Homo sapiens: one gene and its partners. The protein of the gene in region 3 purifies or fractionates together with the protein of the main gene of each other region. This does not show direct contact. Each region holds a gene or a part of one and is shown on either strand. Other genes may lie near its edges.

Region 1 (7,989 bases), on a different chromosome or scaffold from region 3:
TCCTTCATCTGTTTTACATATCCCCATATTTTTAACATCTGGAGCAGTGCCCGAGTCATGGTAGGACCTCCATGAATGTTCACAGAATTCCATCTTGGGCTTCTGAGACTATTACAGTAGTGGTTCTCAAACCTTTCTCTAATTCTTGAATACACGTTTATTTGTCATGAGCTTCCCCCCACCATGGCAAACCAATTTCAGCTCAGTATATAATAGAATTCTGAAATGCAATGATCTTCCTGGAGAATGGGGGATTATAGTTTGTGAAAAGCCTCATAAGTGGTTTTGATAGTTCCCTTCTATTGACAATTTTTTATCAGGATTGTTTTTGAATAAGTAGTGAACTGAAGTCTGTACCTCCATCCTAGAGACTCGTGCAAAGAAGTCTTAATTCTTCTTTCTCATGAAAACTCATCAGTGGAGAACACTTGTCAGAGTGGTCTGCATGTCTTCTCACCACCTCCCCCATCCTTGTATCTTTTCACCTCTAGGAAAATATCCCTGGATCCTTTATCCATTCCTCTTGACCATCCTGGTTGCTCTCATGGGAACATTATCCAGTTTCTCTACCTATATCTCAAAGTGTGGTTGTTTATGTTAGGAGGAAGGAGAAGAGGGAGGGGGTCGAGGTCAAGAGGTGACCCATGACCACATGCCTGGGTCTGAAGTGGGGCGTATGAAGCTTCCTTGCTCAGGTCACAATGCTCATATCACCTTTAACATAACTTTGTTACTTGTGTGTACACTCTCTTTATTTCCTCAGGGCTTAGTTTCAGGAAGGGACTATTATCATCCTTGCTTTAAAATTAAACTATAAACAAAATTCCTTCCATAGTTAGCTTGGCCTACGTGCAGAGATAGGCAGAGGCCGTTAACCTACAAGATGTCACCATGGGCAGGGGGCAGGGTGCGGGGAGCAGAATGGAGCCACTCATGTTCAGCCTCCTTTTGTCTGTTATAATTTCCCCATTTTCAAAGCCAGTGATGTTGCATGTCTCTCACCTGTCTTCTGTATTCTCTCTGTCTCTCACCACAACCAGAAAAGGGTCTCTGCTTTTAAGGACCCATGTCATTAGACAGAGCCCACCTGGATAATCCAGGCTGAACTCTCCTACCTATGGGTCCTTAATCTAATCACACCTGCAAAGTTGCTTTGTTACATAAGGTAACATATTACAGGTTCCAGGGATTAGGATGTGGACGTCTTTGACTTGGAGGAGCAAGATTGATTTTAGACCCTCATCACTGGTGGGATTGGATTTCTGATGTAGCCCTTCCTTGTCCAGGACTGGGCAGGCAGGTGTGAATCTGTATAAGGAAGGCCTCAAGTTACTGTTCCTGGGCTCAACCAGCTACATAGCAGATTTGTACCACCCAGGTACACAGCCTGCATAGCAGATTTGCTGTCTACAGCCATTCTCACCTTTTCTCTTTTCAGGAGCATTTGCAATTATACGGTCATTGCTTTCTTTTTGGAGCCTCCCGTGCAGTTTTAATCTACTTTCAGAACTGGAGAGCACATCACATTTTGGTCAATAGCCTAGACATACAGTTGCATAACCCTTAACTTACCAGTGCTCATTATTTGCATTATTTCATTTTCTGTTCAAGTACTTTGAAAAGCCAAACAACTTTAAATACTACATAAAGTATGCATGCCTCTTAATATTGTTGGGATTCATCTCATTGTTATTTCTGTTACTCAAACCAGAAATCAGCTCCTCTTTCTAGATTGCAAACTAATAATAGTAGCAGAATAATTAATAGTACTATAGAGTAATAGCTACAGTTTGTTGATGCCGGCCAGGAGCCAGGCAGTGTTCCAGGTGTGTGATCTCATTAGATCCTTGCAGACATGATAGTGATGGAATTGTTACTTCCATTTTTTATAGGGCAACTGAACTCAGGTGATATTAAGCTGTTTGCTCAAGCTCATGCAGATCTAGGATTTAAACTCTAGTTTGTTTGACTCCAAAGTGCTCACTCTTCCCGAATGCAGATTCCAGTTGTTAATGTTAGATGAGATGGCACCTTAGTGCCGGTATAGATTCCACCACTGGTCATTCCAGAGGTGTGTTTTGAAGCAGAAGCCAATTAGTACTTTGCCTAAATGGGAATAAACTTGGGCCCAGCCTTTAGTACCATACGGCCCCTCCCCGTGGACTTAAGAAGCCTCTCTGTGTTTCAGCCACACACAGCACCTTGACTTGCATGAGCAGGGAGTTCCAGTGCGAGGACGGGGAGGCCTGCATTGTGCTCTCGGAGCGCTGCGACGGCTTCCTGGACTGCTCGGACGAGAGCGATGAAAAGGCCTGCAGTGGTGAGTGCCGGTCCACGGGCTGGGCTGGGCTGGGCTGGGCTGGGAGGCTCGCTTACCCCAGGGCCCCTCCTGTGTAGACCTTGAGCTAGGACCCTTTTGAACTGTTGCTCAATCTAAGGATAAAACAGATTTGTGCCTAGTTTTGGAGCCCCAAGTGAGGTGAGCCTTGGCCAGACTCTGATACAACATGCAGCTGTCTCCTCCCTGTTAGTGAAATGCTAGTCTTGGATTTTTTTTTTTTTATGGACTTCCCACCTCATGCCCATACACCATGGCTCTCACAGTCTCAATCTGCTGGTGGGATTAACTCAGTTCTTATCTCTGGAGTGTCTAGTAATGGACCCTATGACATGGTCCTTGGACTTGTAGCATTCTCTATGGAGAAATAGGCTTAAATTGTCATAGGCAGGAGGAAGATGAAATTCGAGGGAAAATATCACGACCGGAAAAGTAGGAGACCCTAGGAGGGATTGTATAGGGAGGTTTCAACTACATTTTCTGAGATTTCTTTTCAGATAATGATTATGGCCTCCTGATAATCTAGATCATGGTAGTTCTGTTTAAAAGCAGGAGTCCTTTGAAATCTAAGGATTTGTAAGATGTAACTTTTTTTTTTTTGTATTTTTAGTAGAGACGGGGTTTAGCCACATTGCCCAGGCCAGTCTCGAACTCCTGAGCTCAGGCAATTTGCCCGCCTCGGCCTCCCAAAGTGCTAGGATTACAGGCGTGAGCCACCACGCCCAGCCAAGATGTAACTTTGTTTGTCTTTTTCTCCTTTATCTCTCTAGATGAGTTGACTGTGTACAAAGTACAGAATCTTCAGTGGACAGCTGACTTCTCTGGGGATGTGACTTTGACCTGGATGAGGCCCAAAAAAATGCCCTCTGCTTCTTGTGTATATAATGTCTACTACAGGTAGGTCCCATCTTTGTCATGGGAGATGAAAATGATGTCTTCATTGCCCCAGGATGTTCTGTAAACTCTCTAGTGGCATGCACCATGCTATTAACGGAGTCAGACATCTCAGCCCCCCATGCTGCTCCAGTGTGACAATATCTTTATTTTTTTTTGGGCCAGGGTGGTTGGAGAGAGCATATGGAAGACTCTGGAGACCCACAGCAATAAGACAAACACTGTATTAAAAGTCTTGAAACCAGATACCACGTATCAGGTTAAAGTACAGGTTCAGTGTCTCAGCAAGGCACACAACACCAATGACTTTGTGACCCTGAGGACCCCAGAGGGATGTAAGTGTTTCAGTTAATTTTTATGGCATGGGTAAGACCTCAGGTCGGGGTTTGTGAGGGTCTTTCTGAGTATTCTCAGGAATGTGGGAACATATGTGTGCCTCACATGTACAGAAGTATGGTGGCTAAGCTTTATAGTCTTGCCAGAGTTGTCAAACATCTGTTCTTCTTACTGCATCAGAGACTGTTCTTGTACCTTAAGTTAATTTAAGATTCTCTCCACCATTGCCCTCTTGCATTTTTTGTCTAGTTTCTACCTCTACGTTCCTCCTCTAGATATTTCCTAGTACTTGGTACTTAGGAGGAGGTCATCGTCATTAAAATATGAGGCATATCAGCAATTTTGTGGCTAAGTTTTTTTCTTTTTGGAGACAAGGTCTCACTCTGACACCCACACTGGAGTGCAGTGGAGGCGCAATCACTGCTCACCACCTCAGTCTTCCCAGGCTCAGGTGGTCCTCCCGCCTCAGCCTCTCGCATAGCTGAGACTATAGGTGTGTGCCACCATGCTCAGCTAGCTTTTTGTATTTTTGTACAGAAAGGGTTTTGCCGTGTTACCTAGGCTGGTCTTGAGCTACTGAGCTCAAGCAATCCACCTACTTCAGCCTCCCAAAATGTTGGGATTACAGGTGTGAGCCACTGCACCTGGCTTTGTGGCTAAGTTTTTAAGAAATTTACCAAATTTATGTGTCTAAGAGAGTTCCTCGCCTCCTCCCTACTTCAAAGTAGTTGACATGAGCAACTGTCTGCTTGAATGTCATCTTTTTTCATTGCCTAAAGTATCCTGAATATGCTAGCGCTAAACTCATTAAGGAGCCTGCTTTGAAGATGATCAAATTCATTTGGATATAGAAATTCTGTGATGTTACAAAATTAGTCTTATTTTTTGGTAGTCATGCCCACAGTACAGTTTTTGTTGTACAAGAAGCAGAGGCAGCAGGTGCTGTCATTGACAATTAAGATCTCAGCATGGAAGTCTCAGGGTCAGTGGTGACTCAGCCTGCCCAAGTGATTCTATCCTGCAGCCCTTATGAGCCACAAATTTACCACACACTCAACTGAGCCATGATGTGATGTGTGGACGGCACACCTTGCTTTTTGGAAGAAGAGGAAAAGTGTCTTTTCAATGTGACGACCAAGCTAGCAGCCTTTCTAGTGGATAGTCTCAATGCCGGCTGTGGAGTCGTTCTTGTCCTTGTTCTAAGCCCAGGAAAATTCCTCTGGTTGGCTGCTATGCAGATGGGTTTTAACCTTGAGTTGACTCTTTTTCTAGTGCCAGATGCCCCTCGAAATCTCCAGCTGTCACTCCCCAGGGAAGCAGAAGGTGTGATTGTAGGCCACTGGGCTCCTCCCATCCACACCCATGGCCTCATCCGTGAGTACATTGTAAGTACCTTCCATGAGTTGGCTGTATGTGTGTTGGGGGTGCTAGGAGATTTCTGGGTATTCTGTATGACGAGGGGGTTGATTTGGTTTAGCTTTGTAGGTGATGACCCATCCGTCAGAACATTTTGCTCCTCACCATCTTTTCTCTCCTCCAGCCTCCTTGCAAGATATTAGGATGCCCTGGACCTTTGGTTCCCTTTACTCACATTTTTTTTCTTCTCCCTTTAGGTAGAATACAGCAGGAGTGGTTCCAAGATGTGGGCCTCCCAGAGGGCTGCTAGTAACTTTACAGAAATCAAGAACTTATTGGTCAACACTCTATACACCGTCAGAGTGAGTGTCGTCATCCATTCCAGCCATCCATGCAGTCTTAGAACTGAGCGAAATTGCTGCTGTTTTGTGAGAACTCTCTACTCACCTTTGTGAGATGCATATTAGTAATCTGCAAAATACCCAACTTCTTGCCCTGGGACGGGGGAGCTCAGAGTTTCTTTCAGTCTCTTAAATGGACACCACAAAGAGCTTGACATCAGAGTTTCTGTAGATAACCGGGCGTTTATGGGAATGCCGCTTTCCCTGCTTTTAACTCCGGTATTCTGCTAGCTTTCCAGCTCCTATACTTTTGCAGTCAGCTCTTTCCTGCTTATCTTTAGCTGCAGGATGATGCAGAGCTATGATAAGTAGTCTTTCTAAACTGATTTTATGAGGTTCTTATGAAATATATTTTTAGTATTTTTAGCAGAAAGAGATAGATTTTGTGAACAACATGTTTGCTGAGACCATTAAGTGTGCACATTCATGACTCTCACACTGATAATTTTGTCAGTACCCTTTTTGTATATGTGTGTATTTATGAACACACCCCCCCATACACCTGCCCTTTAGAAGAACCTTGATATTTGTGGATCAATAGAAATTTTCTGATCTCAGGACTGTCATAATGCCCTTTACCCAAGCTCCTTCCCTTGGCTTTTTTGCCCTCTTATTTCAGATGCTGGGGCCTCTGAATATTCTGGATCACTCTGTATAAAATTTTTCCAGCCTCACTGCCAAAATCTCACCCCTTTAGCTCATTCAGTATTCTTACTGTATGGTGTATGGTGTATTGCCTTTATTTCATATTAATTCACCCTCTGATTTGAAAAGGTGGCTGCGGTGACTAGTCGTGGAATAGGAAACTGGAGCGATTCTAAATCCATTACCACCATAAAAGGAAAAGGTAAATGATCCCAGCATTTGCAGATTTAGAGAAAATATTATACAAACCCTTTCAAATGACTTTCAGTATGACCGGAAAATGGAGAAACGTAGTTTAGAAAAACATCACACAACTTTCTTCTCCCCAACACACGCACATTTTTGGGTGTCTCTGTAGTGCTTTAGATAGAGTCTTTTTGGGGTGACTGAGTGTCTTTTTCCTCCTAGTATTGAGCATTTCTTCTAATGCAGACATACAAAGGGATTTCCAAAGGCCATCATGCGCAGCCCTTTGTGAGTAGTCAAAATATCTAAAATAGAAGGAGTCCTTCCTTCTCACCAAAGCTGAAGATGATTTTGTGCATGTTCACTTACGGGGTTTTAAAGAAAGCACCATGCTGACTCTTGTTATTCTCCCAGTGGCACTGGCAAACTGTGTGTAGGTGGTTTTTTATCTTGTACTAGAGCTGATATTAGTAATAACTGATGGCTTGCCAAGGGCAGGACACTCTAGAGTGTTCACTGCTTTGCGTACATCAGCTCATCTAATTGAACAGTCAGAACAACTACAAGAAAGGATAAGGAACTGGAATGAGGTTATGTCACTTGTCCCAGGCCACACAATCAGTAAGTGACAGAGCTGGCCCTGGAACCTGATCTGCCTGACTCCAAAGCCTGTGCTCTTAACCACTGTGCTCCACGCTTCTCTCTGGGCTGAGACACATGCGGCCTACTGGACCGCCCTGCTTGCCGGGGGTGGCGGGCTCAGCATCTTGCACGAGTGCCTCATGAGGGCAGAGATCTGGTCTGTTTTTCTCTACTCTATCACGGGCATCTAGTAGAGACTAAGGAAATAATTGATGATTGAGTGAATCGAAGCAGTTAAATGAAGGGTTCTGGCATACTTTGGGAGATGGACTACAACTCATTTTCCAGAGTGGTTTTCCTGACCTTAGCCTTGACACTGGGGACTTGCATTTCTGGACTTCCAGGTATTAAAACCAGATGGACACTGTGGCATGCAATAGGACTGGAAGATTTTACTTTAACCTAAGCCTGTGAGGAATAGGCTCTGGGTCATGGAGAGTCACTATCTAGTCCCCTCTAAAATCTGGAGCCTTTGAGATCAGGGCCCAAGGCGGCCAAACGTAGTGCCACCAGATGGTCTTTGGAGCTGAATGCTTGCAGGTATTAGAGAAAGCCTGCTGAATTCACACTCTCCTAGAATTTTTATTGTTGTATCTCTTCTCTCTACAAAGTCTGTTTCAAAACACTGACCACACATACCAAGAAGGGATGTTGGAAGAGCAACCAAATACATGTACCTTGAATTCCGAAGGCACAAGTCACAACTGCATTTGAAAATCTCAGTGGATGGTTGGTTCTCTTTAACTTCTTTTCTGTGATTTTGATGAATCTCAGCTGCTTGCATATATTTGGGCTAGGATTTGTACAGAAGGCAGCTGTGTGCCACATCCAAAAAGTGTTTGTTGTAAAATATCTGTGACATAGTATCATAATAACGTTTTAAGATAAAGGACAAAGACAGCAGAGGCATCAGCCAGACGCGCCAGGTTAATTGGTGAATGTAGTGGATTAGTAATGACAATGAGAAAAGCCACCATTCCCTGAGCACTTCTTATACACTAAGCACCATGCTATTGTTGCTCGTGAATGGATCCCTTATTAATCCTTATGAATCCTATGAGATAAGTATCCTTATCCTCATTGTGTAGCTGAGGAAATGGGTTTGGAGTGGATTGTGACTTGTCCCTGGTTGCCATGATTATAATTCAAGTCAGCTTTACCATATGCAGCACTCGCACTGTTTTGCTCTGT
Region 2 (7,989 bases), on a different chromosome or scaffold from region 3:
CCAGCTAATTTTTTGTATTTTTAGTAGAGATGAGGTTTCAACATTTTGGCCAGGCTGGTCTCGAACTCATGACTTCAAGTGATCCAGCCACCTCAGCCTCCCAAAGTGCTGGGATTACAGGCATGAACCACCACGCCCAGCCACACCTTTCTTAGTAACTTTGTAAGAAATCTTATATTTTCTTAGGCCGGGCGCAGTGGCTCATGCCTGTAATCCCAGCACTTTGGGAGGCTGAGGTGGGCAGATCACGAGGTCAGGAAATCGAGACCATCCTGGCTAATACGCTGAAACCCTGTCTCTATTAAAAATACAAAAAAATTAGCCGGGCGTGGTGGCAGGCACCTGAGGTCCCAGCTACTTGGGAGGCTGAGGCAGGAGAATGGTGTAAACCCGGGAGACAGAGCTTGCAGTGAGCCGAGATCGCGCCACTGCACTCCAGATTGGGCGACAGAGCGAGACTCCGTCTAAAAAAAAAAAAACTTATATTTTCCTTAAGTCTCCCTTTTCCCCTAGCATGGTAACATCTGCACAGTTGGCCAGGGTGACCTGTCTTGGATATATAGAAATATCCCTGCTAAGCCAATAGTCTGGATTAGAGGCGCAATCTCTGACCTACCTGTAGCATCTATGTCTGAGGGTGGCTAATTAGTCTAATGGGAACGGAGGTACAACCTGGACCTCATTAACCCTAACCAGTTCAGCTAATTGTGTTGATGATAAATGCTTCACTTTCATGTAGCATTTTCATAGGCATTATATCAAAAGGCCTCTATGAACTGAGTATAATTATCCCCATTGTACAGCCAAAAAGACTTCAGCTCAGAGAGGGTAAATGACTTGCTCAGAGTGTTACGTAATGAACTGGAAATTGAGCCCGGGTGTGTCAATCATCATTTAACAAGAGGAAAGGAGGGGAAAAAGGCGCTTCTTTCTCTTGCTCATGTTTTTCTTATGTTTTCTTAGCTCCTGTGAGTTCTTTGGGTTGTTCTTCCCCTACCCTGTGAACCCCTCACCACAATTACCTTTTGAATCTCTGTCTTAGCTGCAGTTTCTGCTTAGCTTCTCCATCAGCTGGGGATGGGCCTAGGAGTCAGTAAGGAAGGACTATAAAACAGACAAGGGGGCTGGGTGTGGTGGCTCACGCCTGTAATCCCAACAGTTTGGGAGGCCAAGGCAGGTGGATCTCTTGAGGCCAGGAGTTCGAGACTGGCCTGGCCAACATGGCGAAAACCCACCTCTACTAAAAATACACACAAAAAAAAAGATAGCTGGGTGTGGCAGCGGGCACCTGTAACACCAGCTACTCGGGAGGCTGAGGCATGAGAATTCCTTGAACCCAGGAGGCGGTGGTTGCAGTGAGCCGAGATCATACCACTGCACTCCAGCCTGGGTGACAGAGTCAGACTCTGTTTCAAAAAAAAAAAAAAGGCCAGGCGCCATGGCTCATGCCTGTAATCCCAGCACTTTGGGAGGCTGAGGCAGGCAGATCACCTGAGGTCGGGGGTTTGAGACCAGCCTGGCCAACACGACAAAACCCTGTCTCTACTAAAAATGCAAAAAACAAAAACAAAAACCAAAAAAACCTAGCCAGGTGTGGTGAAGCATGCCTGTAATCCCAGCTACTTGGGAGGCTGAGTCAGAATCGCCTGAACCAGGAGGCAGAGGTTGCAGTGAGCCAAGATTGCGCCACTGTACTCCAACCTGGGTGACAGAGTAAGACTCGGTCTCAAAAAAAGAAAAAAAGACAAGGGGATTTGGAGCAAAAGGCTATCTGGCCTAGTTGAGCCTGAGTAAGAATACCAGGTTGATTGACTTTTCTTTTCTTTTCCTGGGATTCAGTACTACCTACCTGTTCCCCTCTTGACTTTCACTGTGACAATGGCAAGTGCATCCGCCGCTCCTGGGTGTGTGACGGGGACAACGACTGTGAGGATGACTCGGATGAGCAGGACTGTCGTGAGTGTTGGCAGAGGCTGGGCGGAACTCCATTGAGTTCCACTGGGAAAGGATTTTCAATCAGAAAGCAATGCCCCAGGTCCACATGAGCCCTTGTGTTTTCAGCACTTTGTCCTGTCCTTTCACTTCCTCTCGAAGTCAGATAAGCTGCTGAGAGGCAGCCACCTCCTTCGGAGCCCTCAGGGCAGCACTGGAGCTACTTGACTGCTCCGGAGGGCTTTAAGTCAGGCTTCCAGGCACCAGACCCCCACTGCCTGCAGCAGCCTGACTGCTCTGTGCCCACAGCCCCCCGGGAGTGTGAGGAGGACGAGTTTCCCTGCCAGAATGGCTACTGCATCCGGAGTCTGTGGCACTGCGATGGTGACAATGACTGTGGCGACAACAGCGATGAGCAGTGTGGTGGGTGACCCCAACGGGGGAAGGCAGGCAAGGTGGCCAGTGGGTGGCCTGGCCATGGGAGAAGATAGCAGCAATGGCCCTAGCACTGCCAAACCTCCAACTGCCCAGATATCTGGAGCAGCTAGAGGAACGCAGAGGGGGCAGAGCCGCTCAGACCCCCCAGAAACTGTGGACCAGGAGGCTGAGGCCCAGTCTCTCCAGGGCCTCCGTTCTCCCTGGAGAGTCTGCACTGACTCTGGGGTGCCTTTCGGGGGCTAGGTCAGACCCGCCAAAGCCAGTGAGGTTGGGAGTCAGAGAGGAGGGTGAGAGGGTTGCCTGTGGGGCCCCCTCAGAACTGCTGTCCCATCGCATCCCCCCAGACATGCGCAAGTGCTCCGACAAGGAGTTCCGCTGTAGTGACGGAAGCTGCATTGCTGAGCATTGGTACTGCGACGGTGACACCGACTGCAAAGATGGCTCCGATGAGGAGAACTGTCGTGAGTGGCCCCAGACCTCAGGCTGTTGGGTTGGATGAGGGCAGACAGTTCTGCCCATTGGCTAAGGGCGAGGCTGAGGAGTGCATGTACCAAGGGCAAGGAGCATGGGTGCCTCAGCAGCAGCTCCTCCTAGGCTGAGCTAGGGAGGGAGCAAGTTCCCCAGGTGGGAAGGGAAGGCTTCCTTTGGTCCACCTGAATATGGGCGTCTATAAGGGCTGTCCCAGATGAAACCTGGTTACATCTCACTTGAAGAAGCTCTCCTGCCTGAGCATCCTGCCTGCTTGAGGAATCAGGGCCCCTCTCCTTCATCCAGGCCTGAGTGTGTGCCCCTCCCCACCCCTGCCTTCCCTCCAGCCTCAGCAGTGCCAGCGCCCCCCTGCAACCTGGAGGAGTTCCAGTGTGCCTATGGACGCTGCATCCTCGACATCTACCACTGCGATGGCGACGATGACTGTGGAGACTGGTCAGACGAGTCTGACTGCTGTGAGTACTCTGGCCAGCTGGGAGGTGGGGAGGCCAGGCTGGGAAGAACTGCTTGGGTGGCAAGGCACAGTCGCCAGCTGGGGCAGGAGTTCAGAGAGGAGTTTCTGGATTTTCTGGTCCCTCTTGGGAAGAGATGGAGGAACTGGGATTCTGGGGCTGTGGCCTTCTAGTCTGCCATGGGACACTGCACAGACTGGCTAGAGACAGAAGTCTTGTGTTTCCCTAGCCTCCCACCAGCCCTGCCGCTCTGGGGAGTTCATGTGTGACAGTGGCCTGTGCATCAATGCAGGCTGGCGCTGCGATGGTGACGCGGACTGTGATGACCAGTCTGATGAGCGCAACTGCAGTGAGTGGGGAAATGGAATTAGGTTGGGCTTGAACTAAGGAGAAGGCTTGTGGAGCCAAAGAGGCCACTACCGGCTGGGCGCGGTGGCTCATGCTTATAATGCCAGCACTTTGGGAGACCAAGGTGGGTGGATTGCTTGAGGTCAGGAGTTCAAGACCAGCCTGGGTAACATGGTTAAACCCCATCTCTACTAAAAATACAAAACTTAGCTGGGTGTGGTGGCGCATGCCTGTAATCCCAGCTACTCGGGAGGCTGAGGCAGGAGAATCGCTTGAACCTAGGAGGCAGAGGTTGCAGTGACCCGAGACGGCGTCCCTGTAGCAGAGTGAGATGACATCTCAAAAAACAAGACAATCCGGGAGGTGAGGGGCGCCTCTGCCTGGCCGCCCCTACTGGGAAGTGAGGAGCCCCTCTGCCCGGCCAGCCGCCCCATCCAGGAGGGAGGTGGGGGGGTCAGCCCCCCGCCCGGTCAGCCACCCCGTCCGGGAGGGAGGTGGGGGGGTCAGCCCCCCGCCCGGCCAGCCGCCCCGTCCGGGAGGGAGGTTGGGGGGTCAGCCCCCCGCCCGGCCAGCCGCCCCGTCCGGGAGGTGAGGGGCGCCTCTGCCCGGCCGCCCCTACTGGGAAGTGAGGAGCCCCTCTGCCAGGCCACCACCCCGTCTGGGAGGTGTACCCAACAGCTCATTGAGAACGGGCCATGATGACAATGGCGGTTTTGTGGAATAGAAAGGAGGGAAAGGTGGGGAAAAGATTGAGAAATCGGATGGTTGCCGTGTCTGTGTAGAAAGAAGTATACATGGGAGACTTTTCATTTTGTTCTGTACTAAGAAAAATTCTTCTGCCTTGGGATCCTGTTGATCTGTGACCTTACCCCCAACCCTGTGCTCTCTGAAACATGTGCTGTGTCCACTCAGGGTTAAATGGATTAAGGGCGGTGCAAGATGTGCTTTGTTAAACAGATGCTTGAAGGCCGCATGCTCGTTAAGAGTCATCACCACTCCCTAATCTCAAGTACCCAGGGACACAAACACTGCGGAAGGCCGCAGGGTCCTCTGCCTAGGAAAACCAGAGACCTTTGTTCACTTGTTTATCTGCTGACCTTCCCTCCACTATTGTCCTATGACCCTGCCAAATCCCCCTCTGCGAGAAACACCCAAGAATGATAATAAAAAAATTAAAAAATAAAAAAAAATAAAAATAAAAAAATAAAAAGAAAAAAAAAAAAAGACAAACAGGCCACTACCCATAAATCTTGAAGACACTGGGTAAGACCACCACCATGTACAGTTGTGTAGGTTGTGCACTGTGCAGAGGCAATATGTCCAAAGGGAAGCCAGTCACATAATAGATTTATATACTCATCATGGCAGTTTTCCAGCAGATGGCAGTAAAGTGTCTTGAGGAAAGGATACTTTTTTCTGATTCACACAAAGACACTATATAGACCAGCTGTGATCCCGGTGTCAAGAGTGGCATGGGTACTGATATAAGCTGCAGATTTGGGTGGCAGGGAGAATTTCAGGCTGAAATGGGGCCCACCTTTCATTAAGCCTTTGCTTTGCCCAGCCACCTCCATGTGTACGGCAGAACAGTTCCGCTGTCACTCAGGCCGCTGTGTCCGCCTGTCCTGGCGCTGTGATGGGGAGGACGACTGTGCAGACAACAGCGATGAAGAGAACTGTGAGAATACAGGTGGTGTCTCCCGGGGTGCCCCAGAACCCTTAGCCTATAGTTGGGGTGGAAGGGTGGAAAAGAGGGTGCTTTGGTATCTTTCCAGTTGGGTTGAGGTTTTACCAGTGTAAAATCCAGGTGCATCATTGACCTGCGGCCTTATGGCCTGGAGCACAGTATCAGAGCTGCGAGTTTCAATTGCCACTCCTATTCTAACTCACACACAGCCAGTGCCTTTAGCTCTGGTCTAGTGAGGAAGGACTACCCTCCATCTGGCAGCCCCCATGTGTGCTCCCCTGGCCACACCCAGTATTGAGCATGTGGTTGCACTTTTTCATTCTGTTCCATATTCCTCACCATCCCACTGTGGAGTCCTGGGGAGAAAGCAAATGCAGACATTCAGCCAGCCCTGTCTGAGCTGCTTCCTGCCCAGGACCCTCACCCTCCCACCTTGAGTCTCATCTGTCTCCAGCTTACCCTAGAAAATGACAGGCTCCCATCTCTTTGTTGGCCCAAGCCCTGCCTTGCTATGACCTGACCCTCCATCTCTCTAGGAAGCCCCCAATGTGCCTTGGACCAGTTCCTGTGTTGGAATGGGCGCTGCATTGGGCAGAGGAAGCTGTGCAACGGGGTCAACGACTGTGGTGACAACAGCGACGAAAGCCCACAGCAGAATTGCCGTGAGTGTCCCCAGTGGGCGGACCTGGCCCATGGTTTGTGGCCGAACCCCACCCATAGGGTTCAAAGGGAATCCTCCCTCAGGACTCTTGCAGCTTTGGGAGCTGTTCTTTGTGGTCCAGGTGGAATGCCAAGTTGGCTCTCTGGGGGAGGATTCTGGGCTCAACTCCCAACTCTGGCTTGGCTGGCACAGGGCCCCGGACGGGTGAGGAGAACTGCAATGTTAACAACGGTGGCTGTGCCCAGAAGTGCCAGATGGTGCGGGGGGCAGTGCAGTGTACCTGCCACACAGGCTACCGGCTCACAGAGGATGGGCACACGTGCCAAGGTGAGCTGGGGCCTGGTTTGCAGCAGAGTCGGGGTTCTGAGCAGGGGCAGCAGACAGGCAGCTGTGTTTCCTATGGGTCAGGCATTTGAACGGTGTGACCTCATTTCGTCCTCACAATAACCCTAGGAGGTGGGGATCATCCTTCCCATTTCACAGATGGGGAGACTGAAGCACAGAGAGGATAAGTAGCTTACCAAAGGCCACACAGCTGGCGAGTAGCAGAGTTGGGATTCCAGCCCAGGTCTGCATGACCTTAAAGCCCTTAACCATTTCTTCTTTTTTATTTTTTATTTTTATTTTTTTGAGATGGAGCCTCGCTCTGTCGCCCAGGCTGGAGTGCAGTGGTGCGATCTCGGCTCACTGCAGCCTCCGCCTCCTGGGTTCAAGCCATTCTCCTGCCTCAGCCTCTTGAGTAGCTGGGACTACAGGTGTGCGCCACCACGCCCGGCCGCCCTTAACCATTTCTTAGACAGCCTTCCCACTAGGCCTGGAAAGTAGATGGGGATGTGGGCAGAAAAGCAGCTCGGCAGCCTGGGAGCGGGAGTGGGAGGACGACAGAAGGGAGATCTCTTGACCTGCCTGGTGTTCCCAGATGTGAATGAATGTGCCGAGGAGGGGTATTGCAGCCAGGGCTGCACCAACAGCGAAGGGGCTTTCCAATGCTGGTGTGAAACAGGCTATGAACTACGGCCCGACCGGCGCAGCTGCAAGGCTCTGGGTAAGGGCTGTTGGCACTTGGCTGGGTGGGCAGAGGGCCGAGCATGGAGGAAGGCCAGGTACTCTGGTGCTCAGGGATTTGCAGAGAGGTAGAGAGATTTCTGTCACAGTAAAATGCAGCAACAGTTGCATTCTGAGCCCCAAGAAAAATGCTGCTGGGGTGGAGTGGGGTGGGGAGGGGTGGAGGAATATAGTTTAAAGGTTGCCACTCTTCTGGTACTGATGCTGACAGCTTGGGGCATGTCCTTGTGAGCAAGTGGCTCCATCGGTCAGCTGAAGACCTGCTGATGGGTACCAGGGGCGGCTCTGAAACCCAGTGGGTATCCCATGTTTATACTGTTTCCCAGGGCCAGAGCCTGTGCTGCTGTTCGCCAATCGCATCGACATCCGGCAGGTGCTGCCACACCGCTCTGAGTACACACTGCTGCTTAACAACCTGGAGAATGCCATTGCCCTTGATTTCCACCACCGCCGCGAGCTTGTCTTCTGGTCAGATGTCACCCTGGACCGGATCCTCCGTGCCAACCTCAACGGCAGCAACGTGGAGGAGGTTGTGTCTACTGGGCTGGAGAGCCCAGGTAGGGAACAAGGCCCCATGGAGAGGGGCAGAGCCATGCCACATGCGCAGCAACGGTGGGAGGAATAGGCCAGTGGTTTGCAAACCTTAGGCAGCAGGACATCTTTTTCTTCCAGGGAAATCTTAGTTGGAGCCCTAATATAGAAAACATTTGTTAATGTATATCAATTTTATAGGTTCAAATATAACATTTGCTCATGATTGAGCTCAATCAGTGAGAATAATGAGACCACGTTGGTGGTTGTGATCATGGGAATCAGATTTATGGATGACAGAGTTCTCCATCAGCCTTTGCATCTAGTTTATTTCTGAGTTTTGTTTCGATTGCTTAGTATTAAGAATATTCTGATTGACCTGGATA
Region 3 (7,989 bases):
CATTGCAACATAACAGGGTCCAAGTGATGTCAGTTTGTCTCTTCATTGGTGATCTCAACCTTGTCCACTTGGCCGAGACGCTGTCTTTCAGATTTCTCCACTATAAAGTTACTTAAAAAAAATTGAAAAGAATAAAGTTTCTTAGGAATAGATAACATTATTAGTGGGCATTCAGCTGTAAAATGACCTTCTCCATTTATTCTTTGTTCAACTACAAATATTCTATCAATATGGCCTTAGAATTGACTCTTAAGTTAGATAACGTGTACATTAACAATTATTTTTTCCAACCTATTGTATCATATAACTTACTTATATCAGGTGTACATCCAGTGATCATTAGACAGTTTGCTGAATGGAGTAACCATCACCACAATTCGGTGATCATTTCATGCTCATATTGATTTCCTCCTGCCTACTTATGGTTAGACTTCATTCTCACTCAGATCTGAAGCAATCACTAATCAGTTTTCTCTATGCATTTTCCTACCCAGACATTTTATAGAAATGGAATCCTGCAATATGTGGTCTTTTTTAACTGGCTTCTTTCATTTAGCAATAATGTTTCAAAGGTTCATGTATGTTGTAGCATGAGTCAGTACTTCATTTCTTTAAATTTCCAAGTAAGATTCCATTGTATGGATAGACCATGATTTGTCTATTCATTTACCCACAGGAGGGCATTTTGGTTGTGCCGTTTTGGGTTTTTATGATTAATGCTGCTGTGAACAGTCATGTGCCAATTCACAATACACATCCCTGTTGGTGGGTGGCATCCCTGGCCACCTTTTCATGTCTCTTTTTCTGCCTTTCCTGGCACTTTGCAGGCACAATTCTGCTTTCCCAGGAACTGCATCACTCAGGACTCTGCAAGTTTCCAGAAGTAAGAGGGAAAATGACCACGTTCAAGGTGGGTAGGACTTGCTTCTATTACTCTTAAAATTCCCTCTCAGTACTTAAATTGTCACAAGTTTTCCTCTGTCTTGGGAAGACTCAAGGAGAAAAACAGACATTTGAGGATCTCTTGTGTACCATGTACTTCCTTTGTTACTTTTGAGTGGATTTTGCATTTGTTTTTACTACTTGTTTTCTTCTATCATTTATTCTATGGAGTAGACAAGATTGTAGGAATGGATAATTATTTCATTATACTACTTCTCTGCTCACACATTAGCTATTTTTATCCTGTGATACTCTTCCTCATGTGCATTCATAACTGTATTTGTATTGGTGATGTTAATCTAATTTAAATTGCACTCTTTGTATTTAATATTATATAATGTTCATTTTTAATGGTTGCACCATATTCCCATTTAATCGATGTTCCTTTTTAATTACTTTATACTTCCAGACACCAGGAACTCAGTTTTGAAAGGCTACTTTTGATGTGTGCCACGTTGGCTGTTTTGTAGATAGAGTATCCATATGTGGCACATCATGGCAGGCTGTAACTGTGGCTTCACACAAGGATTGCTGGAAGTTTCCACACAGGAAGAGCTAGATTCTCTTTCCCCCATGCCTGAGTCATGCCTTCTATGTCTTTTACTTACTGGCCTTTCTTTACTCCTTTATATACTAAGGAATTTGACCAAAGTAATATGTAAGCTAATTTTTTTTTTTTTGAGATGGAGTTTCACTCTTGTTGCCCAGGCTGGAGTGCAATGGTGCGATCTCGGCTCACTGCAGCCTCTGCCTCCCAGGTTCGAGGGATTCTCCTGTCTCAGCCTCCTGAGTGGCTGGGGTTACAGGCATGCGTCACCATGCCTAATTTTGTATTTTTAGTAGAGACAGGGTTTCTCCATGTTGGTCAGGCTGGTCTCGAACTCCCGACCTCAGGTGATCCACCTGCCTCGGCCTTCCAAAGTGCTGGAATTACAGGCGTGAGCCACCGCGCCCAGCCTAACCTAAATTTTTTGTGCATGATACTAGAAAATTTGCCAGTCACTTGTGTTTTGTTTCTTCATTTACTCCTCAGAACAGCTGAATGAGGCTGTTCTTATCTTCCTCTTAAACACATGAAATATGAGAAACCTGCTCAGGTTCAGACAGGAGACCAAGGGTCCAGAATATTAGTTATTTTAGCCTTTTTACTCAGTTGAAAGAGAGAGAAAAAGAAAGAGAGAATTCTCCATTGAGGGAACTGTGCCCTGTGGTGTGGGTGTCTGGAGTGTCCTGTTGAGTGATGATGTCCACAGGTGGCATCGCTCCTCCCTGGACCTACCTTGGGAGGGGGGCATCTTCTCTTCCTGTCGTAGTACCTCTTCCATGGCCCCCAGCACTTCAGGCACCCAAGGACGGCAATTACCACAATTGTTATAGAACATTTTAAAATTCATTATGGGAAAAGATGCCTTACACAAACCAGAAAATGTAACAGTCTAAGGTGAAAATATTTACCATTTGGATATCTAAAACAAGATACAATCCAAAATAAGAATCTTATGCCCAGACCAGGGAAGAAAATCCAAAGAAATACAAATAAAGGACATTACCAGGAATGTATAGAAGGAGAAAAACAGATGTCAATAAATATTTGAAAAGATGGTGGTATTCATTTATAATCAAATAAGTGAGAATAATAAAACAAAATCATGGCCAGGCCTGTGACTCACACCTATAATCCTGGCACTTTAGGAGGCTTAGGAAGGAGGATTGTTTGAAACCAGGAGCTCAAGACCATCCTGGGAAACATAGCAAGACTCTATCTCTACAAAAAGAAAAAAAAGAAAAAAACAATTTCTTCCTAATCAGATTACCAAAGTAATGGGAAAATTGATAACTTGCTTTTGGCTATGTTAAGAAAAACCAGAATAATGTATCCCCTTGAAAGATTTTGAAGTTAGGTAAAAAAAAAAATTGAGAAAACATGACATAATCATAATATTAAATTTCTGACATTTTGTTATTTAAAACTTACTTTAAATAGGAGAGTAAGATCTACCTGAAATGTTCTTTATTGGATTGGTAATCATGGAAAAGATATAAAATTAAATATTCATTATTTAGAATAACAATAGATTAGTTCCATGGAACACTATGCAGACATGAGATAAAATCGACAATAATTGACAAAAATAAAAATAGCTAATGTTTATTAAGTATTCAGTCTTGCTACACACTTTTCCCCAGTAACATACGTATATTCCACTGTTTAATTTGAAAACTATATCATGTGACGATCATTATATAGAGAGGAAAGTAATGCATTCAGGCCAACTTGTCCAAGGTCACATGACTGGGAAGGGACAGAGCCTTATATATGCGCTCTGAGGCACGCTGGCTGCAGATCATGACATTCAGTGTTGCAATTAATGTATGTAGTTTTTGCCTGGAGAGTATAGAGGACTCACTGCATAACTACTCAAACATGTCACCATAAGCTTGTCAGTTTGGCAAATGTTGAAGAAAAACAATAACATCCAGGGTTCGAGTTTGAGAGAGGAAGACAATGGGCATTATCAAACAAAGTCAGGACTGAATTGCTAAATGTTGCTGAGGGTGATTGTCAAGATTTATCAAAACATATATATGTGTAGCCCAGGATGCCACATTTAGAGTCCTAGAGGGTTACTTACAAGAAGACTCAATGATTGCACGAAGTAAAAATACAGGAAGTCTTTTTCATCTTTGTGTTTCTGGTGGAACTCAGGGAAATCAGTCATTGTCAGGATACAGACAGAATGAGTAGGAAATCTACGAGTTGACCTATGTCTCTCAAGATCCAAAACAACTTCCCACCCCTCCCCTCTGTCTGCTCAGTGCCACCCCTCTCCCAGGAATCATTGGTCATGAGACTGAGATTGCATATGTTTGATGCTATAGGAGGCAATGACCTTCAAGGACGTGGCTGTGGTCTTCACTGAGGAAGAGCTGGGGCTGCTGGACCTTGCTCAGAGGAAGCTGTATCGAGATGTGATGCTGGAGAACTTCAGGAACCTGCTCTCAGTGGGTGAGGACAGGCACCCTCTGTAACAGAACGTCAGGCCCCAGAGGTGGCTTTGTATCCTAGGGTACAAAGTTTCAAGTCTTAATTAGTAACTTGAACCTATGGTTCAAGTTTGAGTGTGCAGTAAGAACCTAAATTTCTGGTAAACTTTACCTTGATATTACCTAGAATGTGTTGGGATTAAGCATGTAAGTTTGCCTGTTTGCAGGACATCAAGCATTCCACAGGGATACTTTCCACTTCCTAAGGGAAGAAAAGATTTGGATGATGAAGACAGCAATCCAAAGGGAAGGGAATTCAGGTAAGAATCAAGCAACTGTGAATCCCTGTATGTCTCTTCCACCTGTTTCACTTCTGTCCATGCTCAAATCCATTGCCCTGGCCTAAATGGCCAAACCTCTTTCTTGGATTATTGACAACCATCTTACACCTGGTGGCCCTGCCACCCGCCTTCACATCCTGACATCTGTTCTCATAGCAGCCAAAGTGATCCTTAGGAAATGTAAGTCAGATTGCCATTCCTCAGCTCAAAAGCCTGTTTGGCTTATTTTTATTAAAGTTACAACCTCTTTAATTGACTTTTAGAGACCCTGTGATCTGCTCTTCATCCCCTCCCTGCCACCTCTCTAACTACATCTCCTGTCCTCTCCTTCTTGCTCTGTCTTTACCAGCCACTTTATTCTCCCTGCTGTTTCTCTGTCCTCCCAAGGGCACTGTGTTGCCTTTTGCTGGTACCCAGTGACCACAGACTGAGCAGACTGAGAGACAAACATTTATTATTTTTGTGTTCTTTAGGGATGAAGTCTGATACATCTCACTGGGCAATTATCAAGTTGTCTGTAGGGCTTCATGTTTTCTGGATGCTCTTGGGGAGAAGCCTTTACTTTAGTTTATCAGTGTCTAGGCACTGTCCATACTCCTTGGCTCTTGCTTCCCTTCCTCCATCTTCAAAGGCAGCAACTTGCATCCCCATAGTCATGCTCCCTCTGCCACTCTTCTTATGCCTTCCTCTTTCACCTTTTGGGTCCCTTGTAATTGTTTTGATCACTCCTGGATAATCCAGGATGATCTTTCTGTTCTCTGGTTAACTGACTAGCAACCTTAATTGCATCTACAACCTCTGTTCCCCTGCTGTATAACAACGTGATCATAAGTCCTGGGGACTGGATGTGGACATCTTTTAGGAACCATTATTCTGTCTCTACAGAAGCTTCTGTCTCAGCCCTTACTTGCTCATCTCAGTCACTGGGATACTCTGTCACCTCAAAACCTTCTGGCATCTCCTTCAGTTATTCAAGTTTCTTTTCAGTTTTAAAGTCATGAGAGAAGCCATCCTAAACCACTCTCTTTATAATTCCATTCTATTTTGATTCTTCTTGTGCTCTCTTGTACCAAGTCTCACATACTTCTGTTTATCTGTCACTTCTACATGCTGGACTATAATGTCTAAGGAATTTTAACTCTTCGTGGCTGTATTTTCAGTGCCTAGAATGGTCCTGGTACATGGCAGGTTTCCAAATTTTTGTTAACCTGATATATGAGCTAATGAATGGGGTGACTTCACTGTCTCCTGAAATTATGGAGAGAACTAATAAGTGAAACACAAACTACGGTGAAAGAGAGATATTGCAGAACATGTTTTTTGTCTTCCAATGGCCATGTATTTAATTACAATGTTCTTAGATTCCGTTATTTGATTGCCTTGTGTGTTTACGGTGGACCCACATCCCATGGAAACTTCTAAGCATTCTATTTATTACCATACTGAGCTATATGCCTTCCATATGACTTATCCTGGAGCTTTTCATAGGAAGCATATTCATTTCTGGAAAGAAATCATTTTTGAATGAACATTCTGATGTCTACTAGTGAGACAGCTCTTCTACAAGGGGAAAAAATTCTCCATTTTGTGATGTGTCAGATAATAACCAGCTTCCCAGCTAGCTTTCCTTTGAGAGATTTACCCATCTGCAGCCCATTTGCCTTTCCAAAGTCTGCATGCACGTCACTGACCCCAGGTTTCTTCTTCTCCTGGGTGGGGAAGAATGAGGAAGAGAGCAACACAATTCATGCAGCTAAACATTGCCTATATTTCTGGTCATCTTTGTTCAAAAATATGTATATTTCTGCACCTTCATTGTATACAGATTTAATTGTTAAAAACATAAAAGAATACAGATTTTACAACATAATTTTTCCTTTATTTTTTAGAGACCTAGTGCTCTATTTTCAACTTTATAACTTGGAAGGAATCAGGAAACTGCCCTCTCAAAATACTGACATCCTGAAAGAGACTCTCTCTTCTCCCCAAAAACCTCTTAAGTAACAGTGTGTTAAATATATCCATATTCCAGCGTGTACCATTGGGTACATATTTACCTATTACTGTTTTTCCAAGATTCAACCTTGGAAGTTAACTTTCCATTTGACTGACTTAATTTAGGACTTGGTAATATCCTGACCAAAGTTGTCAACATTTTTATGATTGTGAGTCATAGTAAGAAACACATCTTTCACCATAACCAGGACAAACATTTTTCATGCATGTAGATGTCTATGGGTTACTTCAGTAGGCATTTCATGAAATGATACCTTTCTTGCTTGTCATGAAGATGTGATCATTTCTTTTCTAGTTCTTTTTTTCTAAATGCTCATTAGAAGGTTTTAAATTTATTTTATAGCTCACTTTTTGTCTATATTCTTCCATTTGGAAATAAGTATAAAGGAGTATTTATCTATATCATATATTTTCTGCCCTCTTTTTTCTTCTTTTTTTATTTTTTTGAGACAGGGTCTCACTCTGTCACCCATGCTGGAGAGCATTGGCATGATCTCAGCTCACAGCAACCTCTGCCTCCTGAGTTCACATGATTCTCATACCTCGGCCTCCCACGTAGCTGGGATTATAGGTGTGCACCACCACACCTGGCTAATTTTTGTATTTTTAGTAGAGACAGGGTTTCACCATGTTAATCAGGCTGGTCACCAACTCCTGGGCTCAAGCAATCTGCCCGCCTTGGCCTCTCAAAGTGCTGAGATTACAGACATGAGCCACTGTGCCTAGCCTCTGGTCTTTTTTATTTTAATGAGAGTCTAATATCCCCACATGGAACCAACCCAGGGCATGACCCCTCAGGCATTCTTTTTATCCCAAGTGTTCTCACCACCTTTCATTGTCTCATCAGGAGCATCACCCTTTCTTTACCCCTGTCAGGTCCAACCTTTCAGATTCCCATCAAAACTGGTTGTCTGTTTCTTACCTATCTCAGTTAACCAAATTATTGTTCACATCTACAGAAAAATAAAATTAAAGATACATGTTATGCCAAATTCTTGTGTAGGAATATTATGAATATGTAGATATAAACACTCCTAGGCCTTTGATATTATTGTGAAGAGTTTAACTGGCTGCACAGTTTAGAGCAAGAGTTTACAGAAGATCGCTCTCACTTCACACCAACTGCAAGTGTGGGGATTTCCCAAAACTACCTTCACATTCAGTAATTACCTAGAAAGATAAGCAGAACTCACTGAATGCTTTTATACTAAAAGTTACGGATATTTACAGGGTAGAGATGCACATTACATTTCACCAAGAGAAAAATAAGAAACAGTTCTGGGAAGTACCAAATGAGGATCTTGTATTGTATTCTCCCCATAGAGTAGGATGCGTTAAATTCCCAGAATTAAGGTGTGACGTAGAGGGTACAGCGAATCAGGGAAGCTCACCTGAGCCCTGTATTTTTTTTTTTTTTGAGACGGAGTCTCGCTCTGTCACCCAGGCTGGAGTGCAGTGGCGCAATCTCAGCTCACTGCAAGCTCCAACTCCTGGGTTCTTGCCATTCTCCTGCCTCAGCCTCCCGAGTAGCTGGGACTACAGGCGCCCGCCACCATGTCTGGCTAATTTTTTTGTATTTTTAGTAGAGATGGTGTTTCACCATGTTAGCCAGGATGGTCTCGATCTCCTGACCTCGTGATCTGCCCGCTTCGGCCTCCCGAAGTGCTGGGATTACAGGCGTGAGCCACCGCGCCCAGCCGAGCCC
Region 4 (7,989 bases), on a different chromosome or scaffold from region 3:
AATTGTAGACCAGCACTTTGCCACTATTATATATTTAACACACTTTCAAAACTGTTAGCAAAGAGCTAAAATTCTCACAGTTACCAAAAGTGAAAAGGATGGGCCCCATTTGGAAAAAGGAATTTTAAAGAGAGAAATCTTGTTGAAAGTTAAGAAAGAAAGTGTTACTGCATTATGACAAGCTTCCCTCACTAATATGCTGAAACAGAAGATATGGGAATATAAACTCAAGAAAGAGGTTAATGAGATGTAACTTTCTGCACAGGCTTATGTCAATCGTCCTTGAATAACAGAACAGGCATGTGAATTATACAGATGCGTTTTGTAGTGCAAGAGCTAACTGCTTGACAAAAAATGAGAATTCACATTTAGGTTCTACGTGTACTTATTGTGTAATAGGTAGCTTCTCAAACTGTATGAACTATATCAGAAGTGTTTGTATTACCTTCTAGCTGTGTTTTTCCTTTATACATTCATAAGTTCAAACATTGTATTAAATAGAACAAGGCTTGAAACTAACTCGTATGTTTATGTTCAAACCATATACGTGCACTTGTCTTTTAATTCCTTATTGTTTATTTTATTAGTTTATATTGATTCTATATAGAGCTAAACTAATGTACATGTAAGTTTTTATTACATTCTATCACATCTTAAAAAGGAAACATCTTTGTAACTCTTAACAGCCAAAATTGGAAGATAAATCAGATTCACTTAGAATCAACTAATTTGTCATATAACAATGTCATATCATATCAAAGTATTGCTTGATAAGGATTAAAACTTAAAAGGAAGTATATCTTAAAGTGTCAAATTTTCTGAAAAGGGATTGAGAGGCCTAATGCTAGTCTGTGTTAAATTCTCGAGTATGATACAATGTGGAGACACATTTCCAAATAATTAAAGTTCATGCTGTTATAGTCATTTTAATGTATCTGTATAGAAAACCATCAAACAATGGCAATTAAATGTATATCAAAATTTTAATCTCCCCTCAAAGAAGAATGAACTGCGATTTATGTCTCTTCATATGCCACAAATAACATTAAAGTTTTGTTTTGAAGAGGTTGCTAATCTTTGAATTTGTTCTCTTTCTCTCTTCTCAAGCTCAAATTTAAACTGAGTGAGAGAGAAAAGAGAAAATGGAAAAGGTAAAGAAAGAATTTAAATGTGCTAAAACAATAAGAAAGAATGTGAATTGCAGAAAACAGAATTCAGGAGGAAAAATGGAGTTAAGAGAAAGCTGAAGATAAATTTAGGAAAAAGATGAATGGATGGATGGATGGATGGATGGATGGATGGATGGATTCTGCCATACATCAGAATCTGAATCAGTATTTCTTGAATAGGTTAAAATATCTTTAGACAAAATAATTTCTTAAAATGTTTTTATCTCATTATTAAAAACATTATATGAAAATATTTACAGTATAAAAATAATTTAAGGAAAGTGCCACCAGTGTGAATCTGAATATAATTAGACCTCTAAGAATGGAGAGAGACATGAGAATATTGCAGAAAAATTAAATATTAACTGTGCTAGAATTACAAATATGGAAGTGATTTTTTAAAAATGTAAGTGAAGGTAAAGGAAATTTTCTTAGAAAGGGTGCTAGATGAGTGATATGGTTAATGTATTCTTAGGACTTAGATGACACTTTCTAAATGCTGCTTGTTTTTCAAGGTGGAGGTATGCAGAAATACTTAGTTTGCAAATCTATTGGATCCAGGACATTAGTTTCTTGCCAGTTACCTTGTCAATTTCTTTTCTCAGCCCAGGGGATACCATAAAAATCAGCTCCATTTAAAGTCACCTGAACTGAACAGGACTTGGTCTTCTACAAGGATTATGATGTTGAGGGAACTTTATGTCTTTTCTCCATTCTATATATGGATCCAGTTTTTTATGTTTCTGCCATTAATTTTTGTATCTTAATGTGAAATGTGCAACTCTCCCTCCCTTTCCTTCAGCATTTTCCTGGTTATAGGAATTCTGTGTAGTAAAAAGTACCAATCAAACATACTGATAGATTTCTCTATCTTCTGTGGCTGTCTGTCAAAACAATTCTTGTACAAAGGAAACACTTGTCTTCATTCTAGATAGATGCATTCAAAGAAAGTAGAATTAATCCTAAAAGTTAAACATGCCTGTGCCAACATGATATCATTCGTCAAACTAAGTTAGTAGTAAGTGGAACCCAACTATACAATTGCCCCCAACCCCGTTTTTAATCTCTCTCTGTGTGTGTTTATGTGTGTCTGTATATCTGCTTTAAAATGGCTTTCCTTGGCACAAACGCCATTAAAAATACCACTCTGGCTTGAAAATTGGTGATGGTTTTTATGAATGAAACTTTTGCTTTTGAAAACTCCAGATAAACATGTCTATTTATCTGGACAAAAAAAAAAGTGAAATGAAAAAAATTTTAAGTTATTTTTTGACTCATAGCATATAATATTCTAATACATTTCGATATAACAAGTATTTTGTTTTAACAGAATCTGACTGTGTGGCAGAAACACGTGTCAAAATTATCTGCTTTTGAAATGAATATAATTATGGTATACCCAATGCTTATAATTTGAAGCAATACATTTAGTAGCAGAATGCTAAAGAAAATAAAGCCAAAGACTGAGTTCCATTATGAATTAATCAGAATATATGCTCAGCCAAACTCCTATGAGAAAATATCTATGTCTACCTTAGATAGTTTTAAAACTTTTCTTAAATTTCTTCAAGAAACCTGGCTTCCCCCATATAATCCAAGAATAATGACCAAAACTATCTTGATGCATAGAAAGGTCAAATAAGAAGGTTTTTCTTTTGGTTTTGGCAGAGGAGGGGGGAGAGTAGGGAAAATTAGCTAATCAAACAGAAAAATGTCAAGGGATGCTTTTTATTTTCTTCTGTGGAGTTGCTATACATTTTCACATGGATAGCTATTCCCAAATTTAACCTGTGTCACAAACCATTGTCTAGAGACATAGAAATGAAATTGCAACAGAGCAATCACAAATTGTATAGTCTATAGGCCTTGGGAACATTCTCCAGTTATTTTATTTTGGATGGAGATTTTTAAAACTTATTAGTTTTTTGGGATAAAATATTATTTAAACAGTAAATAAGACAAAAAATGAAAATATCTCTAAAAATAATTTGAGTTTTTAAAAGTTGGTTTTTGGACTAATTTCCATATGTGAGTTCCACTGGCACAGAATGAGTGTCTTTACCTCACTCACTCAATTTTGAAAAGTATTATACTTGCAATAGTATTGAATCTCTGTTCTGGCTCTTCAGTCCTCTCTCATTTGAATAACATGTCAATCTCACCAAGTACATATGAACCCTCTATTTTAGAGAAAGGAGAATGAAGGATTCAGGAGATTCTGCCATTCAGCACAACAAGTAAGCTTACATCTTCCAAATGTATATGCTGTTTTTTTTCTGTTTGTCTTCTATAATCTGCCCTCACAATTTTAAATCTATATTTTCCTCTTCATAAATGATCAGATGGCCTCCCTTTTTCCCCTGGCATAATTACAAGGCCAAGTTAGAAAGTATGTATTATGTATTGCTCTGTTCTAAATTGAGTGATATTAAAATGTAGAGTCAGTCTCACTCTCTCCATCTCTCTTTCTCTCCATCCTTTCTATTTAGGCTATCTCTATACAAGCCCACATATTTTGACTGAGCTCCCTGACTAAACCAATTGATGAAACTGACTAGTAACTAAATGGAAATCAAAACTATTAAATAATAGCCATACATCCTGTAAAAAAAAAAAGTAAGACTGGTCTTGCAGGAAAAGCCTAAATTGAGATTCTATGAAGAAACAATAACAACAACATATTTCCCTGAAAGAATTATGCAACATATTTCTAGTTTGCAGAGCAAATCATATGTGCTTTTGCTGTTGTGTCTCTCATACTAGGCAAATGAAATATTTTTGGTAGTAACTACATATTTATATAATGGGGTATTATACAAGTTTAAAACACTATTAGAAAATAAATAAGTATTCTGAATTCATTTGTACTCAAAGAGAATTTACTATATTGAAAGTGGAAATTTATTATTTTTCTTTTTGTCTTTACTTTTTAACTGAATTTGTATTTCTCCATTTTGTGAAACATTAAAAAAAACTTAAATATATTCCAAAATGTGATTTCAAAGATTTTCTCTCAATAAAGAATATATATAGTGGAAATCATTCATAAATTGGACAACAGGATTAAATGCTCTTTTAAATATGACTATAATAATTTTCATATGCAGTCACATTAACTTAGTTTTAGTCTACAATTAGGTACCCAATTATGATTTTTAAAAATGCAATGGCATGAATAAATAAATGAGTATACCCATTTGTTGATCTTATTCCCTATTACTTCAAATTTGTAAGTATCCTTAGTGGAAAAGAGTAATGTTCATTTTGGAAATAATCATGTCTCAACATGATTGGGGTCTACTCAAGGGGGAGGGTGGGAGGAAGAAGAGGAGCAGAAAGGATAACTATTGGGCACTGGGCTTAACACCTGGGTGGTAAGATAATATGATCAACAAACCCTTGTTACACATGTTTACCTATGTAACAAACCTTCACATGTACCCCCAAATCTAAAATTAAAATTAAAAAAAACATGTTTTTCTGTTGTTCAATAACTCTACTCATATTTGTTTAATAATGATGTATTGTCTACATTTGGGATTTCTTCTTAAATATTGCAGAATAGTTGTAAATACGTAACGCTTTTCAAAGGTGTCTTTACCTTTAGAAAAGAAAGAAAATTAATTTTGATTAATACATTTGTACCACAGATCCATTTGTTTAATCTTATTTTTCTCAAATATAAGCTCGTATATAAAAGTTTCTCAGATATAAGCTTGTGTATTTAAAAGTTTCCATTTAAACATGAATAATATTATAACTATATCCTTTACAGAAGTTGAGAAAGTACCTTTTCATATACAATTTCTTCCAACTTTGTTAAGAGAAAAATAACCAAAAAAAAAAAAAAACTTCTTGAAGAAGATAGATCATGTTGCCTTGCTAAGATACCGACATTACATTTCATCTCACAATACATTCTTATTAACAGTCAGACATCTCTTCCTGAGTTGCATACACCTCATTGTCCTGACTGGCTTAGCCTTCAGACCAAAGACAGGTATTGTTGAAACATGACCTCATTTTAGTCAAAAGAATATGTTTCTTCTTTAGGTAAGATCAAGGTACCACCTATCGTCTCTTGTTTTATTCTTGCAATCAATAGGACATCCCTTCCTAACTTTTCCACATTGCATTGACATCCTTCAAGATTTCCAAGACTGCTTAACTTTAGAAATACGAATATATAATTCCTTAAGAATTTTTCTACCGCTGAGTTTTTCTTTAATGACGATTTGTCATCTTAGCCCTTTCTTCTTAAAATGAGAAAAGATAACTAACAATGAGTTTTGGGGAGAAATGAAACTTAGTTATGGTTGCTTTGTGTGTTCCTAGCATATCTTAAGATATTTGTGAGAAAGAAAAGCTGTAGGTGTAATGCTGATAACCGAAATGTGTTTAGAATCATCTGTTTTCTTTTGAAACTAGGATGTGTAAGGAAAGGAAGAAAAACAATGCCAAGAAAGAGAACTTTGATAGTCAGAATTTATTGAAGCTTCTGTCCACTACTGCTCAGATCAAGTAGCTGAGCTAATTAGAACCTTAAACTTTTGCTAAAATAGATATTATAGAGATTTAAAAATGATTCAGTTTTTAGATTATCTAAGACATTTTGTGCATTTCCAAAGCTTTTAATGGTATATTTTTATTGGGACAAAAATGTTAGAATAGCAAGTGTGCTTTATTGAAATATTCCACTTTATCCAACTCTATTAACTTTTAAGGCATTTTTTTCATGACTAAGATCTGGAAGTACAGTGATAATGACACCACCTCGTGAGTGAGATTCTTGCCTCATCAGGTGAAAGCACTACAGATTGTGCCCACTGGGCATCCATATTTTTGAGATTTTCATTAAGCATAATAACTACATCAGATTTGTAGATGGAATTACTAACTCAGAATTCAGGCACTCTTGCTGAGCGCCCTTGTATTGATGTCATTTCTAACACAAAGACTAGCAGTTCAGGAGCACTATATTGATGTCCTGTAATACAACAGCACACTAATCTTATTTGCAAGAAAATTTGATGACTATCCAACATGATCAACATTTAGAATATCTAAATCTAAATGTTGAATTTAGATATACTAAATATATCAGATATTCAGAACTTAAACCTTCTTCTTTGTCCGTTGTTGTATTACACTCAATTCTACAGTTCCTTCTCCTAGCACGTTTTCTTCCTATTTTCACTTGCTAGTGATCTTGTCAAATATTTAGAAATTAATCTTGACAGTGAAAGAACCAACATCTTAGCACATTTTGACTTCCTTTGCTATTCTCATTGCTAGGAGAACATAAAGTAATGAAGGGCATGAGGGTTTTACCTTGTGTGTATTTTCATCTGGGTGTCTATGAAAACACCACCAGAGTTTTACAGAAAATTGCTCCGACCCATTCTGAGAAGATAAACATAGCTATGACCCTAACGTTCTGTGAGTGCACAGAGTGTAATGTCTGTGAAAACACATCGTATCATGTATTGCATTACATAAATACCTATTATTTTATTAATTATATTAATTGCTTAATATGAGTTACTAATAGCAAGAAGCTCTTTACATTTTCAGCATACCTTCGCTTTTCATTCAAATTTTTTTTTTCTTGCTGAATCACATGATCCTTGAAGCAACTCATATAGTTGGTGATCACTCATGTGTTTATTCACTCATTTGACAAAGATGAGCAAATAAGTGGTAATCACTATTTTACGTGGTTGGAATGAAGCAAGTGAACAAGGTAGACAATGTAACTGGGCTGATAGGGCTTTAGTGCAAGAGGAGACAGAAACAGCAAACAAATAAATAAATAACATCCTTGCTAAAAAGAAAGAAAAATAATGTAATGTGACTGAGGACAATGCAATTGGGAGTCGTAGTTATAATCGCAGAAGGCCTTGTTGAGTAAGTGACATATTTGGTAAAACTAAGTGACGAGAGGGGACAAGCTCTGAGTCATCTAGAGGGAGGAATTTTCTATGCAACCCTTGAGAGGAAGTTGTGATTTTGGTATTTTAAAGAAAGCAGGTCACTTTGTCTGAAATAAACTGTGTGTGTTTGGGAGAGAACAGAAGTAGAGAAAGCCATATTTACAGTGAAGTCAGATTAGGTCAGGTAGGGTCATGCAGATCAAATTGAGGCATTTGGGTTTGGTTCTGATTTTGAGCAGCTACTGGCTGTCTAATCAGAGGTGAAAATGATGCAACTTACTTTTTAAAGAGATCATGCTTGGTCTGAAAAGAAGGACAAGAAGGGAAATGATGAATCCAGTTCAGGGATTATCAAATTCATCCTGGAAAAGATGTTGATGGCTTGAATGAGGGAGTAGTAGTGGCAATAACGACAAGCTACAACAGAGATTTGCATTTTTAGTTTAGAAAGATTTTCTATAAGAACGAATGCAGCACCATTCTATGTATTAGGGAGGATAGGCATGAAATAAAGCCGCAAAAGATAATCTTTGGGGGAAAGGGTTAATATTCTAATCAGATAATAAATTATTTCAGGCTATTTTAAATGGGTACATTCCATTTTGCAGTGCCTTTTATTGATTTGTGTAAAACATGGTTCACAATAAAAGTCACATGATGGTCATATGTGGGCCCTACAATATTGTTTACTTTCTTATTGCTTTTTCTTTTATATTTCAGAATTATTAATACCATATTTCCTAACACCCTGTGTTTGCCTATGCCATGTCTGTAAAATGGAATTAATTGAGTCTGACTCACAGTATTCTTTAGGGAATTAGTTAAAATGATACACTTAGCAATGTTTTAAGCATTGACAAGTATGGAAGCAATAATTTTGCTGTTAT

Evidence for each region.
Region 1: the proteins of ZNF224 (region 3) and SORL1 purify together in Homo sapiens (affinity purification with mass spectrometry; 2 studies listed by BioGRID and IntAct, with this or other methods). This does not show direct contact.
Region 2: the proteins of ZNF224 (region 3) and LRP4 purify together in Homo sapiens (affinity purification with mass spectrometry; 2 studies listed by BioGRID and IntAct, with this or other methods). This does not show direct contact.
Region 4: the proteins of ZNF224 (region 3) and LRP1B purify together in Homo sapiens (affinity purification with mass spectrometry; 2 studies listed by BioGRID and IntAct, with this or other methods). This does not show direct contact.

The regions. Positions count from the first base shown.
Region 1 is NC_000011.10:121,602,005-121,609,993, forward strand, and holds part of SORL1 (sortilin-related receptor preproprotein), read left to right. Parts: intron 1-2,188; coding exon 2,189-2,320; intron 2,321-3,108; coding exon 3,109-3,235; intron 3,236-3,397; coding exon 3,398-3,567; intron 3,568-4,840; coding exon 4,841-4,953; intron 4,954-5,181; coding exon 5,182-5,286; intron 5,287-6,099; coding exon 6,100-6,172; intron 6,173-7,989. UniProt on the Homo sapiens protein: Sorting receptor that directs several proteins to their correct location within the cell. Along with AP-1 complex, involved Golgi apparatus - endosome sorting.
Region 2 is NC_000011.10:46,894,229-46,902,217, reverse strand, and holds part of LRP4 (low-density lipoprotein receptor-related protein 4 precursor), read left to right. Parts: intron 1-1,839; coding exon 1,840-1,956; intron 1,957-2,241; coding exon 2,242-2,355; intron 2,356-2,714; coding exon 2,715-2,831; intron 2,832-3,185; coding exon 3,186-3,314; intron 3,315-3,540; coding exon 3,541-3,660; intron 3,661-3,913; exon of another isoform or gene 3,914-4,022; intron 4,023-5,223; coding exon 5,224-5,349; intron 5,350-5,882; coding exon 5,883-6,008; intron 6,009-6,199; coding exon 6,200-6,334; intron 6,335-6,926; coding exon 6,927-7,052; intron 7,053-7,398; coding exon 7,399-7,629; intron 7,630-7,989. UniProt on the Homo sapiens protein: Mediates SOST-dependent inhibition of bone formation. Functions as a specific facilitator of SOST-mediated inhibition of Wnt signaling.
Region 3 is NC_000019.10:44,096,979-44,104,967, forward strand, and holds part of ZNF224 (zinc finger protein 224), read left to right. Parts: intron 1-827; 5' UTR 828-895; coding exon 896-910; intron 911-3,822; coding exon 3,823-3,949; intron 3,950-4,154; coding exon 4,155-4,247; intron 4,248-7,989.
Region 4 is NC_000002.12:142,120,687-142,128,675, reverse strand, and holds part of LRP1B (low-density lipoprotein receptor-related protein 1B precursor), read left to right. Parts: intron 1-7,989. UniProt on the Homo sapiens protein: Potential cell surface proteins that bind and internalize ligands in the process of receptor-mediated endocytosis.